2 linked regions of the Homo sapiens genome follow. The protein of the gene in region 1 purifies or fractionates together with the protein of each later gene. This does not show direct contact. Each region holds a gene or a part of one and is shown in the gene's direction. Other genes may lie near its edges.

Region 1 (3,112 bases):
GGGCCCAGGTGCTTGGGCCTGGAGGCCCTTGCTGGGAGCTGCTGCAGCTGAGAGGTGCCCCGCAGCTGGGCCTGACTCTCCTCTTGCGGCTGCCCCCACATTCCCAGTCCTCCCCAGCTGGCTGGCGGGTGGGAGAGCCTGGGAAATGAGTCCGCTAGCCAGAGGCAGCCAAGCCCCTGAATCAGAATGGGGTTGGGACGAGGGGGCACAGCCAGTGCTTGCTGGGCTCCATCACCCCCATGGAGAGGCAGCTTGCCAAGGGTGGGTAGACAGGAGGAATCCTGCCCTGGGTGCAGGTGGCAGCCTCCTGGGTCCTGCCCAGAGCCTGGCCACTGACCTGGCTGTGCATGGACCTGTGCCCTGCAGGTTGCACTTCCCCCAGCTGGCCCTGAGGCGGAGGCTGGGGCAGCTGAGCTGCATGTCCAGACCCGCTCTGAAACTGCGCTCCTGGCCCTTGACCGTCCTCTACTACCTCCTGCCCTTCGGCGCCCTCAGACCGCTCAGCCGGGTGGGATGGAGGCCCGTAAGCAGGGTAAGTGTGCACAGGCCCCTGTGGCTCGGACCTCCCTTCCGGGCAGGCCTGAGGTTGGGGTGCAGGAGAGACTGAGGTGGTGGCGAGCTGTCAGAAGCAGAGGTCACCGCTACATCTTCAGGGGGTCCGGGTCGGAAGGTTCATTGGTGGGCAAGGCCAAGGCAGCTTTTGAGAAGGCCACTACCTGGGCCGCGGGTGACTGCGAGGGCATGTCGTGCCCTGCCCACTCCCCTAGCCTGCCTCATGTCTGCCATTTGGGGCTCTGGTTCTGGAAGGAACCCAGTCTGGGGATTCAGAAAATGGTGTCTGTCTCTGATTTTTCTGTGTTCAAGCAAAAAAGAGCTTATAGGTGATTTTGAACAGAAGCCAAATTAATTCCGGGATGCCAAAGGGGTGGTTCAGGATGGATGGATCCTGTTTGGGTCCCTTAGGGTGAGGACACCCTTAAGGAACCCAGAGGCATGCCCCAGGAATGGGCAAGGGAACTGGCTTGTCCTCTCCTGGTCCCTAGAGGGCTTGCTCTTGCCCTTGGCTTCCCAGGCAGGTTGACCCCAAGGAGGAAACCCTGTTCCTGGGCCTTTGACAGTCACATGGGTGTCATCAGAGCTCAGGGGCACTGAGGCACCCTGGACATTAGCCCAGGCTCCCACCTGTGCCTGGGAAGGGCCTGGGCTCACATAGCCCTTCTGTGTGACTGGGCATCAGCTGGAAGGGATAAGAGCAGCTCTCTGGGAGCTTACCTTACCTTGGAGAGGTGTTGAAAGTTGGAATGAAATCAGTTTTACACCTTGGGGAGTTGGTGTCTTGGTTGTGTTTAGAGAAGCAGCAGCCACCAATTACAGGCAGCTTCTACAGTGGCAGCAGCACCTGAAGTTTAAGAGGCTGCCCCTTCCTGGGTACCTGGCCCTGCCGGAGAGCTCTGGGACCATCTAGTGGGACCCAGTGCTTGTCCCCAGGCCATCGTCTGTCTTAGGTGCTCCAGGCTTCCCTGAAGGAAGAGAGAACAGAGGGGCCTGAGGGGATGACTTCTCTTTGCCTCCTGGGAGGAACCCCAGGTGCAGATGGCTTTATGGCCTGGCTCAGTCACAGTAGAACGTTGAACACAAGTCCTGCCGTGGGGCCAAGGTGGGGCTCAGCAGGGCTGGGCTTCTCAGACTGGCTGCATCCAGGCCCTCAAGAGTGCTGGCTGGACCTGTGGGGGCTGCAGACCCTGTGTCTGCAGCTCAGGCCCAGGTGACAGTGACATCGCAGACCTGCATCTGAAAATCCCTGTTGGTGCTCAGGGTATCCTCCTTCTTCCTGTTAAGACAGAGGGACACACTTTGGGCTGTAGACTTGTTCCATGCACTTGGGAGCCTCCTCCTTTGGTGGTCTGGGATATGGGCAGTGACCACGGGCAAGATGCCCACCACCTCTCCACACACTGTGATATTGGGGTCACCGTGGCTAGGGTCACACACTGTGGTTAGGATCAGATCCGTTTCCGACCCCCACTTTAAGAAGTAAGACTGCTGGGCGTCTCCCGTTCTGGGACTGGAGCAGTTGCTATTTGACTTTTGCATGAAATGATGAAATCCACTGGAGTTGTATGTAAATCCAGCACTCCGTGTGGCAGGTGCAGTCTGGTTCCCAGTGAGAAACAGCCACATCACAAAAGCAGCGTGGGGCACCTGGGCCCTGGTGTCCTCCGTGGGGTGCAGATTCTCCCCTGAAGTGAGAGCTGGGCTAATGACACTACTTGGGCTCTCTGGAGCTGGGGCAGTGTGGTCAACTCAGCCCCTTGCCCTGTGGCCTGCAGGTGGCTTTGTACAAGTCAGTGCCAACGCGCTTGCTGTCACGGGCCTGGGGTCGCCTCAATCAGGTGGAGCTGCCACACTGGCTGCGCAGGCCCGTCTACAGCCTGTACATCTGGACGTTTGGGGTGAACATGAAAGAGGCCGCTGTGGAGGACCTGCATCACTACCGCAACCTCAGCGAGTTCTTCCGGCGCAAGCTGAAGCCGCAGGCCCGGCCTGTCTGTGGCCTGCACAGCGTGGTGAGGCCTGACCCTTTCCTCCTGCAGGAAACAGGACTTTTTCCTGCCTCCCCAGCACAGCCCCCCTGGTCTCCAGCGTATCTGGAAGGGGCAGGATGACAAGGGGAGGTGGGGGCTGTCTCCTGGGGGGAGGAGACCCTGCTCTCCCTGGCAGCAAGCCTCTCCTGCCCTTCCAGATTAGCCCATCGGATGGAAGGATCCTCAACTTTGGGCAGGTGAAGAACTGTGAGGTGGAGCAGGTAAAGGGGGTCACCTACTCCCTGGAGTCGTTCCTGGGCCCGCGTATGTGCACAGAGGACCTGCCCTTCCCACCAGGTGGGTCACTGCACAGGCGGGGCTAGGCAGCCCTGCTGCTGTGTGGCTGGACCGGGAGGGAGGGGAATGCTGGGGAAGGAACTGAGGCTGGCATGTGGGGCCTCCCTGAGAATCCATGTGCAGACCACACTCGGGCTCCGTGCTGGGTGCTCACTGTGTTGGTGGCCCCCACGTCTGCTCCTACTCCACAGCCGCGTCGTGTGACTCCTTCAAGAACCAGCTGGTCACCC
Region 2 (3,500 bases), about 19 Mb from region 1:
CCCCCCAGTCAGTTCCCCCCGCAATCAGTTCCCCCGTCAGTGCCCCCTCCAGTCAGTGCCCCCCAAATCAGTGCCCCCAGTCAGTGCCCACTCCAGTCAGTTCCCCTCCAGTAAGTGCCCCCCAAGTCAGTTTCCTCCCAAGTCAGGGCCCCCTCCAGTCAGTTCCCTCCCAGTCAGTCAGTGCCCCCCCAGTCAGTGCCCTCCTTCTGTTCCCCCACCCTACACCAGTCAGTGCTTCCTGCACCAGTCAGTGTCCCCTGCTAGCTAGTCATTGCACCTCACCCATCAGTCCCCACCCCACCCATCAGTGCCCCCCACCGTCAGTCAGTGCCCCTTGCAAGTCATGCTCCTCCTGTCGGTCAGTGCCTCCGCATCTGTCAGTCCGCGCACTGGTCAGTGCCTCCACTGTTGGTCAGTGCTCCCCCACCGTCAGTCCACTCTGCTCCCCATCAGTGTCCCCCAGTCAGAGTCCCGCATCCCTGTCCCCCGTCAGCCAGTGCCCCCCCAGTCAATTATTTTCTTTCTGTCATGTCCCCACTTCCCATCAGTGCCTGCACCCCCACCCGTACCCGTCAGTCACTGACCGCATAATCCCTCCCCTGCCAGTGCCCTTCCTTGTCAGTCCAAGCGCTCTGTGACCCCTTCTGTCAGCAATGTCCCCACCTGTCATTGATCTTCTCTGTCAGTGCCCCCCATCAGTGCCAGTGCCTCTGTCAGTGAGCCCCACTGTCAGTAAGTTTCCCTCATAAGTGTCTCCCTCATCCTGCCTGTTGTGGCCCTTCCGCTCTTTGCTATCGGCCTCTGTGTTAGTGCCTGTCAGATCCTCCCCATCAGTTCTCCCCTGTTGTCAGTTCCTGTCCCCTTTCATGCTACCTCCTTCATCCCTTATCTGTTAGGGACCCATTAGTACCCTGCCCTGCTGTTAGTGACCCCACCTGTCAGTGTCTCCCCACTGCTTCTCTCCTGCCTGTCAGTGGGAGAACTTTCAGTGCCCGCTGTCATCACCCCTCTTGTCCAATCACTGATTCCCCTTTCCATTATTTCCTAACCCTTTCCAACACTACTCGTCTTTTCCTGTCGCGCTCCCCATCACGGCTTGAGATATCACCAGTCATCTAACCTCACCTTACCCCGCACTGCCCTGTTGCTTCCATCCCCATCATCTCTTCCTTCAGCCTGTCACCTTCCCCCATGCACCGTACTGTCCCCCGACCTGCCACTCTGTGTACTCGCAGCTTCCCTACCTGCTTTGTCCACTCTCTTGTTACTGACTCCTCCCAATTTGCTGCTCATTCCCTGACCTGTCAGCACCAGCTCCCCCAAGTCTGTCACTTCCATTTAGTCCCTGCCTTTCACTGCAGCCCCCTCTTTGTCACTGTACCCACTGATTTTGTTCTAGACCCTTCTCCTGTGTCTTGTTCTTTCATCCACCCTTCCCTCATGGCCTCTCTCTGCCCTGCTCTTGGCTTCTCCTTGCCCCTGCAGTTGCCGACACTGTTCACTGTTCACTGAAAGAGGCTCTTCACCTCTTTTTGATGTCCCTTTTTCTGGTTTATCTTCCCTTTGTTTTTATTTTTTACTTTAAAATGTTGTGGGTACACAATAGGTGTATATATCTCTCCCCTTTGACTTTTCTAACTCACTTCAGTTAATCTTTGGAATGTGAGAGGCAGCTAGCTTTGAGACAAATTGGGGGACAGAGTCTCCCATGCTGAGAGGACAGCACATGCAAAGGCCCTGAAGTGGGAAATTTTGGGTGTGATATCCTCCAGGAACCTAGATAAGACTGATGTGCTTATGGTAAGGGAGAGAGAGGCAGGAGCCTGGGCTGGAAAGTTGGTTTTCTCATTAAGCCGTTCCTTGCAGGTGTTAGTAGGGAGTTGGACCTTCAGTCTGAGTTGTAGGAGAAACCTGGCCTGGAGATTGAGTTGGAGAGTGCCATGATCATATGGACATTGGCACGTGGACAGCAGGTGGGGGTGAGATGAAGTGTTGGGAGCTGGGTGTAGTGATTGTAATGGTTTAGAACTTGGTGGTGGGTTTAGGGAGATATTTTGGAGGTAGAGCTGTTGGGACTTGTTGGTAGATGAGAAGAGAGGTGTGAGAGAATGAATGGACTCAGGGTAATTTCTGGGCTGCTTTTATCCTCCCAGCCCCATCAACCCTTCTAGGCTTTCTGATGGAACAAATGGGTGGATAGTAGCACTGTTTATTGAAATAGGGAAGCTGAATTAGGGTGGTGTCAGGGCTGGGGGTGTTACTACAGTTTGGAAGTAGAAAGCAAGGCTTTCTCTTGGCTGAAAGTAGGGGAAGTCTGAGAAGTCCGAGGGTCACTAGGGAGAAGGTATCTTACAGGAGGGTCTGGAACCCAGAGGAGAGGCCAAGCCGCAGGTATACAACTGTCATCATGGGGGCAAGGTATAAAGCCTTGGGGATGGCTATTTATTTAAAAGCACATGGGCTGGGTGCGGTGGTTCACGCCTGTAATCCCAGCACTTTGGGAGGCTGAGGTGGGAGCATCACTTAAGGCCAGGGCAGCCTGGGGACATGACAAAACCCTATCTCTACAAAAACAAAAAGCAGGGCCGGGCGCAGTGGCTCACGCCTGTAATCCCAGCACTTTGGGATGCTGAGGCGGGCGGATCACCTGAGGTCAGGAGTTCGAGACCAGCTTGGCCAACATAGTGAAACTCCATCTCTACTGAAAATACAAAAAAAACTAGCCAGGCATGGTGGTGGGCGCCTGTAATCCCAGCTACTCAGGAGGCTGGGGCAGGAGAATCGCTTGAACCTGGGAGGTGGAGGTTGCAGTGTGCCGAGATTGTGCCATTGCACTCTAGCCTGGGCGACAAGAGTGAGACTTCCTCTCAAAAAAAAAAAAAAAAAAAAAAGTTGGGCATGGTGGTGTGCGCCTATAGTCCCAGCTGCTCGGACACTGAGGTGGCAGGATCACCTGAGCCTGGGGAGGTCAAGGCTGCAGTGAGCTGTGATCACTCCATTGCACTCCAGCCTGGGCGACAGCGTGAGACCCTGTCTCAAAAAAAAAAAAAAAAAAAAACGGGCTGGACGTGGTGACTCGTGCCTATAATCCCAGCACTTTGGGAGGCTGAGGCGGGAGGATCACTTGAGGCCAGGAGTTCTAGACCAGCCTGAGCAACATAGTGAGGCCCCATCTCTGCCAAAAATAAATAAAAGCACACCCACAAAAGCAGAATGTGGCCAGGCATAGTGGCTCATGCCTGTAATCCCAGCAGTTTGGGAGGCTGAGGCAGGTGGATCACCTGAGGTCAGGAATTCGAGACCAGCCTGGCCAACATGGTGAAACCCCGTCTTTACTAAAAATACAAAAAATTAGCCAGGCGTGGTGGCATGCGCCTGTAATCCCAGCTGAGGCAGGAGAATTGCTTGAACCCGGGAAGCGGAGGTTGCAGTGAGCCAAGATCACAACATTGCATTCCATTCTGGGCAACAAGAGTGAAACTCCATCTTAAAAAAAAAAA

Evidence for each region. Proteins that work in one complex are often made in the same cells at the same time.
Region 2: the proteins of PISD (region 1) and PPP6R2 purify together in Homo sapiens (co-immunoprecipitation; one large-scale study listed by IntAct). This does not show direct contact.

Annotation. Positions count from the first base shown.
Region 1 is NC_000022.11:31,621,104-31,624,215, reverse strand, and holds part of PISD (phosphatidylserine decarboxylase proenzyme, mitochondrial), read left to right. Parts: intron 1-366; coding exon of another isoform or gene 367-532; intron 533-2,330; coding exon 2,331-2,567; intron 2,568-2,684; exon of another isoform or gene 2,685-2,743; coding exon 2,744-2,882; intron 2,883-3,073; coding exon 3,074-3,112. UniProt on the Homo sapiens protein: Catalyzes the formation of phosphatidylethanolamine (PtdEtn) from phosphatidylserine (PtdSer). Plays a central role in phospholipid metabolism and in the interorganelle trafficking of phosphatidylserine.
Region 2 is NC_000022.11:50,346,327-50,349,826, forward strand, and holds part of PPP6R2 (serine/threonine-protein phosphatase 6 regulatory subunit 2), read left to right. Parts: intron 1-3,500. UniProt on the Homo sapiens protein: Regulatory subunit of protein phosphatase 6 (PP6). May function as a scaffolding PP6 subunit. Involved in the PP6-mediated dephosphorylation of NFKBIE opposing its degradation in response to TNF-alpha.